3 linked regions of the Homo sapiens genome follow. The protein of the gene in region 3 interacts with the protein of the main gene of each other region in a pairwise test. Each region holds a gene or a part of one and is shown on either strand. Other genes may lie near its edges. The genes, in order: SERBP1, DNASE1L1 and SERPINH1.

Region 1 (3,819 bases), on a different chromosome or scaffold from region 3:
CAAATCCTACCACGAGAAAATTGTTTTGATTTTTAAAATTAGTTCACTGTTACAGAATTCAACTAAAGCTAAAGAGAAACAACTCCTTTCAGAGAAGCACGTGGCAGGAAGGGGTAATTTCAACTTTCAACATATAAATGCAGCTTTAAAGATTCAGACCTTAGGTCCAACACCTGCTTGCTATTGATCATGCACGTTCTTATCTCCAAACTGCTTGCTCTTTTTTTTCATCCGCAACAAACTGGTAAAGCGAATGCAAAAATCAAGACAATCCTGTGAAACTCACAGTGCCCTAGAAACAACTATTAACCGCCAGTGAAACTCTGACCATGCTTCACGCACATGTGGTGGAAAAAAAAAACTGCGAACTCTAAAGAGCTCTGCTGCGACTAACGCTGTGACAGCCTCTGCACTCACTTCACCCACGAGGCCCAGACCCCACCACGTGAAAGATTCAGTTTGGGGAGTCGAGAGAGAGGATCGTGACTCGAGGACGTTCCTCGGGATGTCCTGCAATCACCAGTCTTCATTCATAATTCCCGCTCCTGGTTAATCGAGTGTGGCCAAACTCCTCCATTTCCCAACGGCTCAACTCACCCCAGCAAGTTATGAGAAAGTCCTAACAGTTGAGAGGTGGAAGAGAAACAAATAAAGGACATGCGGCACCCCAACCTGCAGCTTACTCCACACGTCTGATGGCCTGGAACGACCCCCTGCTTTTCAGCGGGGATACTCCGCGCCGTCGTGGGACAAGACGGCAGGACAGGAGCCTGAAACAACAGCACCTCAAAGGAGCAGCTCTGCGCAGTAAGCAGCGATGGACCCCCAAGCTCCTCCGTAACTACGGAAAGCTTCGGTGAGGGGCCGGCTTCCCCGCACCTCAGTCCATGCGCTCACCCGCCAAGGAATCCGGCGGGAAGGCAACAGCCTCCCAGGACCTCGAGCGCGCTCGAGGAGCAGCTCATCTCCGACCACGCTCCTCTGCTCACAACCTGAGGCGGGAAGGGGATGGCTCCGAGAACCTCGCCGGCGGTGGCTTGAACTTGGGGCTACCACGCTCCTGGCACCTTCGCAGGACCGGACTTTTGTCGCGTGAAGAAACGTGAGGATATAGGCGGCAAAGTCTCCCGCGGACCCTCGGAGCTCCAGAAACAAGTGGCAGCCGGCAGCCCCCTCGCTCCTTCCCTCCATCCCAGTCTCCCCCACATTCTGCCCCTGCTTTACCTTCTTTCTTAAGCGCCACGGGCGGCTGCGTCTCCTCTTTCTTGTCAACCACGCCAACGCTGGGGGGCAGCGGGTTCTTGCGGTCTTTCTGGGACTCCTTGCGCAGCTGTTTGCCTGCCGCGTTGGAGTTGGTCTGGGCCGCGGCCTGAGCTGCGCTCTTGGCCCCAGGGCCCCCAACGCCGCCCCCGCCGGCTTCTTTTTTCTTGTTCTCTGCTGCCTTCAGCACCTCGAAGGGGTCCGATTCGTCGTCAAATAACTGGTCGAATCGGTTGGTGACCACGCAGCCGAAGCCTTCCTGTAAGTGCCCAGGCATGATGGTGGCTCGGCGGCGCGTTCCTCCACGGATTGCAGCGGGCCGCGCCGAGCCAAGAGCGCCTGCTTCAGCTCTTCCCACAAGATGGCCGGGCCGAGAGAGGGGGGCCGTCTTCTCTTCCGGCGCCAGGCACACATCCGGGAGCGGCCTGCGCCGCAAGGCACTGTGGGGTATGTAGGCCAGAGTCATTTCTCCTGAGGCGACTCTCCGCGTCGGGACTACAATTCCCAGGACGCACCGCGCGACAACTCTTCGCGCGCGCCTGAGAGGCGAGACCCCATGAGGGGAGTGAAGCGTGCGGGCTGAAGGAAGGGAAGCGTGGTGGTGGGCGGAGTCCTGCCACCTGCTCTGGCCACCCTTAAACTCTCTAGGTCTTCAGCTACCTTGAAACCAAAAAACCGTGACGGCGTAACTGACTCGCGAAAGTGCTCTTTGGTTTCACTCACGCCCCCTCGGGCTCAGGGCTAACTTTCCCCACCGCTCCAGGGGGGTCAAGGTGACTCCCAGACCTTACATCTGAGACGCACAAACTTCCGGGGGAGGGGGTGTTGCTGAGGCGCCGCGCCGGCCGCGGGTAGGCTGGACCCTGCCTGTGCCAAGTCCGAGCTGCTCAGTTGCTGGAGTGGCCCTCCGTCAGCCTCCACGGTGAATCGAGGCTCTTCTGTCTAATGTGAGGGGGAATACGTTTCCTCTCGCGGGGACATGAACTAGGGTAGCAGAACTAACCAAAAAGACAAGTGAAACTATCACATGGGAGCGTGGCGCGTCTTTCCCGGGCTTCTCACCGTGTGGCGGCGGGTGTCGTAGGAGTGGTTAACTCCTGACGGTGCAGCGCTAGACGCGGGGCAAGCCTCCAGGAAGCACTGTTTATAGAAACCCTGTTACAATTATTCCAATTAATCGTCCGTTCGTGTCCGGCAAGTCAGGGCTTAGGTGGCTGTGTTGTTAGTCACATGCGCTCAATACATATCATTTGAGAACATTTCGAGTGCATGTGTGCTAGGAGTTGCGGTGAGGGGAGGGAAATATTGAAGTCAACACTTAATAATGACAAAGCATTGATACTAGTTGAGAATATTAAAATTCATTAAAAGAATACAATTTGAATGCGTATTTAAGCACATTTGGTAGCACCGGGTTTAAGTATATCATAATTTTTAAGTCCTTTTCCATTAACACAAAGTAGCAAATGCATCGCTTATTTGGTAGGAGCTATGAATAACCTTGAACTCAACATTTTGTTAGGCAAATAGTTTGCCTCTTTTCACAAATGTTGAAACCACTTCAGAGATGAAATGATTTACCAAATTCACACCTCTGTAAGTGCTAGTGACAGGCATTAGCCCAGTATTCTATCTCCACTAGGAGACTGGACATCAGCTCTTTAATTCAGACTGCCCTGATAGAAAGCAGTCCAATTTTTAAATTTCCGATATAATTTAAACATTGTTGCGTGTCAGGATATGTAACATGGCGGAATGTAATCATCAATTTCCGAGCAGATTTTAAATCAATTCCTTAGCAGGGAAAATAGAAGACACGAGTCATATTACATACATGGGGCAGCAAGCCTCCTGGTTTTCTTGTTTCTCAATCCTCCCCTATTCCTCACTTATTTCCCTGCTGCCTCAGTCCTGCACCCTGCCCACAACGCCCAACCTCAAACACACCCCCTATCTCATCCCCCCTTCCACAGGCTCTGGTTCTGTGGCACCTACCAAGACAAGGAGCTTTTGACCATACTCTTCCCACCTTTTTGAAATAGCTCAAGTGCAATGTAGAAGATCTCCACATTTTGACAGATTTTCTCTCTTCACGGGCTGTTGCGTCTCTGAGACTGCCTGCATCTTTGAGACATCTGTGAAAGCTCCTCTTCTTAACTCTTTCTGGCCACGGCCACAGTAACAATATTCATACTAAAACGTGATGTTTTAGTGTGTGCTTGGTGCACTTTACATACGTGATCTCCTTTAAACCTTACATCAACTCTATAAGAAAGTTATTACTCCATACCTCCCCCCCGCAAAAAAAAAGTTATTGCTCCTGTTTTAAGATTAGGAAAATGAAAACAAAGAGCTTAAGTAAGTTAACTACTCCTGCCACAATCTGGGGGGTGGGGCAGGCCTGTTGTTATTCATTTTTCTCCTCCATTACAGATTTCTGGTTTGCTCAAACAGAGCTTCGTAACCACCAAGCATTATTACAATAAGAATATTTGAAAATAAGCTACACATAGAGGAATTTTCTGGCTATGAATTTATGAGGTTCATTTATGCTCTTCA
Region 2 (3,819 bases), on a different chromosome or scaffold from region 3:
GCTGGGGTTTAAGTCCCAAAAGGCAGCAGGCCCTGGGGGGGTAGGGGGACGCTCAGGCAGCAGGGCACAGCTGAGGGGACAGGAGTGATAGCAGCAACAGAACAGTGAGGCTGAGAGGCTGGACGCTGTGCGCCTGGCTCAGCTTCAGCTCCACCTCCACGGGGTAGTGGTCACTGATGTTGAGGGCCTGGGAATGGGTGGTGGGGCAGTGTCAGTGCCCGGGGCCGAGGGGCTTCCCTGTGACCCTGCTGCTGCCCTCCCTCCTCATGCCAGCCCCATCCCTTCACCTCCTCCTCGGTGAGCTGGAAGCTCGTGGGGAAGTCAAAGGCAGCCGCAGTGTGCAGCAGACTCCGGCAGCGCTCCCCGTGCAGCACGACGCGGTCATAGGTGCAGTGGGTGCTGGCCCGCACTGTGGTGTCCTCCCCATCGGCAATCACCCAGTGGAAGCCTGGCTCAGTCCGCAGCTCCAGCTTGTCCAGGCGCTTTTTGGTCAGTGAAGCGCAGTCAGCATTGAAGTCCCCAAGCAGGATCACGTCCTAGAGACACAGCAGCCATCAGGCTGGCCGCTGGGCCACCCTATCCTTGTCCCTCCTGTACAAACTGCCCAGGCCTACCTTGCTCTGCCAGTGCTGGGAGACCTCCAGAAACACATCGTAGAGGGCGTTCAGCTCCTTCTCTACGGCCTTAGGAGTGGTGTGCAGCGGGACCAACACCAGGCTGGGAAGGACTGCAAGGCCCAGGGACCGAGGGCTGCCATCCACTCCTGGACCTTCTCCCCCTAGCCCGTCTGGGTGAGGAAGCCCCCAGTGGAGCCAGCCAGAACTCCCCTTCTGCTCCCACATACCAAGCCCACCCTTCCCTTCCTACCATTGCTGGGCAAAGAGAACTGGGCCACAAATGGCTCCCGGGCAAAGACGTCATCCTCATCGTTGTACACGTAGGAACTCAGGACCTGTGTTTTGTGTGACCTGGGAGGACAAAGGGATGGGCAGCAGTGGCCCCACGTCTTTGATTTTGGCTTGCAAGTGCCAAACGGCGCTCAGGGAGGGGCCCTCCACTAACAGCGGCAATGTGGGCACAGCCCTCCCAACCTGTCTCTAGAACTTTCAAAAATCAGGCATAATTCATATGCCATAAAATTCACCTGCTTCAAGTATACAACACGGTTCTTTTGTACATTCATAAGGCTGTGCAACTATTTCTACAATCAATTTTAAAACATTGGTATCCATTACTCCTAATAAAAACATAACATCCATTACCAGTTACTCTCCATTCTCCCCTCCCCCCAGCCCCTGCAACCATTAATCTGTTCTCTATCTTGTACATTTGCCTATTCTGGATATTTCATATGAATGAAATCAGCTCATCAATGTTTTCTGCGTTCGTCCATATGCTGTGGCACGTCTGTGCTTCATTCCTCTTTCTGGCTGAATAATATTCCACGGACTGGGTATAGTACATTTTGACATTTGGACACTTTGATGTCATTCTTTTTTTTTTTTTTTTTTTTTTTGAGACATGGTCTCACTCTGTTGCTCAGGCTGCAGTGCACTGGCACAATCATAGCTCACTGCAGCCTTGAACTCTTGGGTTCAAGTGATCCTGCTGCTTCAGCCTCCCAAAGCGTTGGGATTACAGGCATGAGCCACTGTACCCTGCCTACCCAGTAATTTTGGAGCGCATACCAGATGTCATATCATTTTATTTATATAGAGAATCAGTTCTCCTTCCCTGCAGCCTCCCTTGCCCTCTGGATCCTGACTCCAAAGGGCTCCCTGCCAGCCTGTCCTCCCAGGGACTTAGAAGATCGGGTCTACCCAAGGCCCATAAGTGGTCCCCACGGAGCCTCTTCCCAGGAGCTGCAGCCCTTGCTGGCCACTTTCATAGAGGGGGCCAGCCACACCCTGAGCCCCAGCAGCTCCCACAGGAGAGAGGAGGAGGGACCCCACATTTGTGCTTATAGAAGGAAGGCCTCCTGCTCTATGGACACTCTGGCGGGGGTCGAGGATGGGAAGAGCCCAGAATAAAAGGTGTTGAGAAGAGAAAGCATGCAAAGCAGGTGAGGCTGTCCCAGGATGGGGGGCCTGTGGCCCCGGGGACTAATGAGCCTACCTCACATTAGGGCCAAGGACCGCCCCCCACCCTGCTGCGCTGCCAGCTCCGTGCTCACCGATAGAAGTACACATACGTCTCCATGTAGGTGCTGCGCCCCAGCTGGGGGCTGCTCAGGGTGCTGTAGGGCCCAGAGCCATCAAATCTGCCAAGAAAAGGGGAGGCGGGGTCAGGGCCTCAAGCCTCTGGGTGTGCCCCTGATTAGACCCACAGAATCTTCCTCACCGATTGAGTTCTCGAAGCAGGAGCGGGATGGCGCTGCCGGAAGAGTCCACCACCTCCTGCAGCACCATGATGTCACAGCGAGCCAGTATCTGTGGGACATCAGGAAGGCCAGCCTGACTCAGTGCCAACTGCCCTGAGAGGAGGCAGTGGGCCCAGGGGACTGGCACTGTTGTGGCCCAGAGTGTTAAGGCTCACTGACTGCAGCCCACAGAAAGCAGTGGGACTGGAAATGCCCCAGGAAAAGACTCATCCCACCCACATGTCACCTGTTTCACAGAGGAGGAGACTGAGGCCAGCAGCAGGCAAGCGCCTGCGCTGCATCTCCGTGCCACACCTCTTCTTCTCCCCTCTTCTCTAGAACATACCCCTGGTCAGGCAGGGATGGGGGCTTTGGCTCATGGTGGTTAGGGGCACGGCTTCCCTGAAGTGATGAACTTACCCGAACTAAGGTGTCCATCACCTGCTCCCTGGCCACCTTGGCCAGTGTCAGCCGCTGGGCATTGAAGGCGCAGATGCGAAAGGCCTGGGCCCCATTGGCCAGGATGAGGAAGAGGAGTGCAGTTGGGTAGTGCATGGCTGTGTGTGGCTGCCGGGGACACCCCAGGAATCCAGGCTGCCCCAGGGTGCGCTCTCACTGGGCTCAGTTCTGGCTCTGGAAGCGCTGAAATATGGAACAGAGAAAGTGGCACTAGCTGCTGCCCAGCACCAGCCTCCCAGTGACCTCCCGAGATCATACCACTGCACTCCAGCCTGGGTGACAGAGTGAGACTCTGTCTCCAAAAAAAAAAATTGTTTTTGAGACAGAGTCTTGCTCTGTGAAGATCAAGCCAAGATCGCACCACTGCACTCCAGCCTGGGCGACAATAAGACTCCGTCTCAAAAAAAAGTGAAATCCTACAGTATTTGTCTTTTTGTGACTGGCTCATTTCACTGAGCAAAATGTCCTCAAGGGTCATTCATGTTGGAGCATATGTCAGAATTTTTTTTTTTTTTTTGAGACGGAGTCTCACTCTGTCGCCCAGGCTGGAGTGCAGTGGCGCAAACGCGGCTCACTGCAAGCTCCGCCTCCTGGGTTCACGCCATTCTCCTGCCTCAGCCTCCCGAGTAGCTGGGACTACAGGTGCCTGCCACACGCCCGGCTAATTTTTTGTATTTTTAGTAGAGATGGGGTTTCACCATGTTAGCCAGAATGGTCTTGATCTCCTGACCTCGTGATCTGCCCGCCTCGGCCTCCCAAAATGCTGGGATTACAGGCGTGAGCCACCGCACCCGGCTGTAGAATTTCTTTCCTTTTCATGGCTGAATCATATTCCATTGTCTGGGCATCTGGGTAGACCACATTTTGTTCATTCATTCATTCATCCATCCATCTGGTTTTTTTTTTTTTTTTTTGAGACGGAGTTTCGCTCTTGCTGCCCGGGCTGGAGTGCAATGGTGCGATCTCGGCTTACTGCAACCTCTGCCTCCCAGGTTCAAGCG
Region 3 (3,600 bases):
TGGCTGTCAGATTGGAGGGCAGAATGGAATCTGATGTGGCTCCAGCTTCTTTGAAGGCTGAGTGCACATCTGGCCAGCTGCTGGTGATGGGGAAGGGGGTCACTGCTCTATTGAGCTATGTGTGACTCACCCTTTTCCCTAGTATCCTGTCCTTGTGCTATGTCAGGAAGCCTCCTCCCCAGCCCCACCGAGTCTTCAAAGGAGTTGGTCCCCCAGGAGCTTTTGTCCTGGGGATTTCCCATCCGCACTGGGAGCACTGTGGGTAGATGGGCATTCCAAGTTCCTGCCCAGACAGAAGCCATGGGCATGGAGACCTGGACCTTTCAGCTTGGAAAAGGGAGACTGAGGCTGAGTGGACACAGGACACACACACACACACTCTCAGGGTCACCCTTGGGGCAGCAAAGTGGAGCATCTTGGCTCCCCATTTAATGAGTGACCCAACTGGTGACTCATTAACATCCCAGAGCAGAATGAAAGGCATGGGGGCGGGGCAGCCCTCCGGCTCTGTCCCTCATCCCTTGCCCAGGCATCTGGGTTTCCTGCAGATTCTCAGCTCAGCTGCTGCTTTTTCTCACTGGAAAAGGGCTCCCAGGGCTATGTGAGATCAGGGCTGACCACTCTATAAACTGATGAGGACCCCAGGTCTGGCCAAGTGACCCTGTTTTACCTTCGTTCAGGAAGAGCTGAGGCCTACTGTGTACTAGGCACGGGAGATATAGTGGCAACCAGATTGGCTAGCTTTTCTGTCCTGGAGGCCACAGCCTACTTAGGAGCAGAAATAGTTATGAAATAAACACACAAATAAGTGGAAGTGTTGGCTGGCCGATGCAGGAAATCAATAAGGTGGTCTGGTGGTGACTTGCTGGGAATGCTTCTTTGAGTAGGGAGGTAACAGAGGCCTCTGAGAGGCTGGCAGCTCTGAGTCAAGTCTGGGATTCCTGGACTGTGGGCTCTCTTGCCCCCATCTCCAGGGGACTTGTGGCAGCCAGAGAGCTGAGGGTGGTTGTTGGGGAGGAAGGCCTTGGGCTTCAAGACCACCCTGTCTGTGCAATCCTCACAGGCCCACCGTGGTGCACGCAAACCACTTCCTGGCCATGCGCTCCCTCCTGCTTCTCAGCGCCTTCTGCCTCCTGGAGGCGGCCCTGGCCGCCGAGGTGAAGAAACCTGCAGCCGCAGCAGCTCCTGGCACTGCGGAGAAGTTGAGCCCCAAGGCGGCCACGCTTGCCGAGCGCAGCGCCGGCCTGGCCTTCAGCTTGTACCAGGCCATGGCCAAGGACCAGGCAGTGGAGAACATCCTGGTGTCACCCGTGGTGGTGGCCTCGTCGCTAGGGCTCGTGTCGCTGGGCGGCAAGGCGACCACGGCGTCGCAGGCCAAGGCAGTGCTGAGCGCCGAGCAGCTGCGCGACGAGGAGGTGCACGCCGGCCTGGGCGAGCTGCTGCGCTCACTCAGCAACTCCACGGCGCGCAACGTGACCTGGAAGCTGGGCAGCCGACTGTACGGACCCAGCTCAGTGAGCTTCGCTGATGACTTCGTGCGCAGCAGCAAGCAGCACTACAACTGCGAGCACTCCAAGATCAACTTCCGCGACAAGCGCAGCGCGCTGCAGTCCATCAACGAGTGGGCCGCGCAGACCACCGACGGCAAGCTGCCCGAGGTCACCAAGGACGTGGAGCGCACGGACGGCGCCCTGCTAGTCAACGCCATGTTCTTCAAGCGTGAGTCGGGGGCGCGTTCAGGGGTCCTCCTCCTCCTCCCAGGACCCCCTGCAAGAGTTAGGACGACATTCCGTGCGCTCCATTCTTCACTGCCTCTCATTTATGCTGTGACAACCCAGGGAGGCAGGACTGTCACTCAGCTTTTTGTACAGACTGGAAACTAGATTCAGAGACAGGTAGCAGCGTGTAAAGGAATGGTTCAGGGAGCGGAGGCCCCAGAGGGACTCCATGGAATGTATTCCGACCGAATTTCGTCAAAGTGCTCGTCCTTGTGTATCTTGGAATGAATAACATTTAATAATCCATTCTGCCTCAGTAGTGAGCTAGAGAAAGAACTCAAATCCTTTTTTTAAAATTATTTTTATTTTGAGATGGAGTCTCACTCTGTCACCCAGGCTGGAGTGCAATGGCACGATCTCAGCTCACTGCAGCCTTGGCCTCCGGGCTTCAAGCAATTCTCCTGCCTCAGCCTCCTGAGTAGCTGGGGTTACAGGTGCCTACCACCACACCCAGCTAATTTTTGTATTTTTACTAGAGACGGGGTTTTGCCATGTTGGCCAGGCTGGTCTCAAACTTTTGGTCTCAAGTGATCTGCCCGCCTCGGCCTCCCAAAGTGCTGGGATTACAGGTGCGAGCCACCATGTGCGGCCAAGACCCAGAATCCTTAAAGCAACCTTGGGGGCAGGCAGTGTTACCTTCATTTCACAGTGAGGAAACTGAGGCTCAGCAAGGAGGAAGCAGAGCCAGGCCTCAGGCCCAGATGCCTCTGTCTTCAGTTGAAGATTAGATGTAGGGTTAATAAATATTTTTGAGTACCTCCATAGACAACACTATTCTCACAGTTTGCTGTGAGAATGAAGTAACCCTCGTTTTACAAATGAGGCCAAGCTAGGAGAGCTGAGGTCTCCCCGAGTCAGTGGCTGAGCTTGGATTGGAACACAGGTCTGGCTGTGAGCAAGGGCAGGGTTCAGGCCACTCTCAGACATTTTTTGTTGTTATTTTCTGGTCATGGAGACAGAACTTGCAGAGGAAAACGAAGGGTGGGCTGAGCACAGTAGCTCATGCCTGTAATCCTAGCACTTTGGGAGGCCAAGGTGGGTGGATCACATGAGCCCAGGAATTTGAGACCAGCCTGGGTAAGATGGCGAAACCCCATGTCTACAAAAAATTAGCCAGGCGTGGTGGCGCATGCTGGTAGTCCCAGCTACTCTGGAGGCTGAGGTGGGAGGATCGCTGGAGCCTGGGAATTCAAGACTGCAGTGTGTCATGATTGTACCACTGCACTCCAGCTGTAGGATGGAGTGGGACGGACCTTGTCTCAAAAAGAAAAAGATAAAAAAAAAATTAAGGGTGGTCATGGGGCACTCCCTGCCCAGGGCACAGCTGTCCCCCAGGTACCAGGGAGGGTAGAAAGCCCACCTCAGAGCATGTTTCCAAAATATCTGACAAGTGCTAGAGCCGGGGGTGGCCATAGAGGTGGCTGACCTGAGGGCGGAATTAATTCTCTATCATATGGGAGCAGCAGGCACTGACTGTAGGGAACCGCATCCTCAGATGGCATGTCCTGGGGCCAAGACCCCTTCCCAAAGCTGGGAACATAGACTCTGTGGGCTGGGTGCTCTATAGCTGGGCCCTGAAGAATGGAGCAAAGACCTGTGGCAAGGATAAATCAAGGTCTGCAGCCGGGGGTGGCTGTGGGCTGTGATTGTGTTTGGGGGCGGCCATGTGTCTCTGACCCTGTGTTTTGCCCCAACTACAGCACACTGGGATGAGAAATTCCACCACAAGATGGTGGACAACCGTGGCTTCATGGTGACTCGGTCCTATACCGTGGGTGTCATGATGATGCACCGGACAGGTAGGTGCTGTGAGGAGCAGGGT

Evidence for each region.
Region 1: the proteins of SERPINH1 (region 3) and SERBP1 interact in binary tests that used the Homo sapiens proteins (3 or more experiments, as listed by UniProt).
Region 2: the proteins of SERPINH1 (region 3) and DNASE1L1 interact in binary tests that used the Homo sapiens proteins (3 or more experiments, as listed by UniProt).

The regions. Positions count from the first base shown.
Region 1 is NC_000001.11:67,428,764-67,432,582, forward strand, and holds the start of SERBP1 (SERPINE1 mRNA-binding protein 1), read right to left. Parts: upstream 1,640-3,819; 5' UTR 1,538-1,639; coding exon 1,225-1,537; intron 1-1,224. UniProt on the Homo sapiens protein: Ribosome-binding protein that promotes ribosome hibernation, a process during which ribosomes are stabilized in an inactive state and preserved from proteasomal degradation.
Region 2 is NC_000023.11:154,402,655-154,406,473, forward strand, and holds part of DNASE1L1 (deoxyribonuclease-1-like 1 precursor), read right to left. Parts: intron 3,002-3,819; 5' UTR 2,915-3,001; coding exon 2,780-2,914; intron 2,430-2,779; coding exon 2,341-2,429; intron 2,261-2,340; coding exon 2,174-2,260; intron 969-2,173; coding exon 868-968; intron 728-867; coding exon 615-727; intron 537-614; coding exon 288-536; intron 188-287; coding exon 53-187; 3' UTR 1-52.
Region 3 is NC_000011.10:75,565,253-75,568,852, forward strand, and holds part of SERPINH1 (serpin H1 isoform 1 precursor), read left to right. Parts: intron 1-1,063; 5' UTR 1,064-1,097; coding exon 1,098-1,719; intron 1,720-3,478; coding exon 3,479-3,577; intron 3,578-3,600.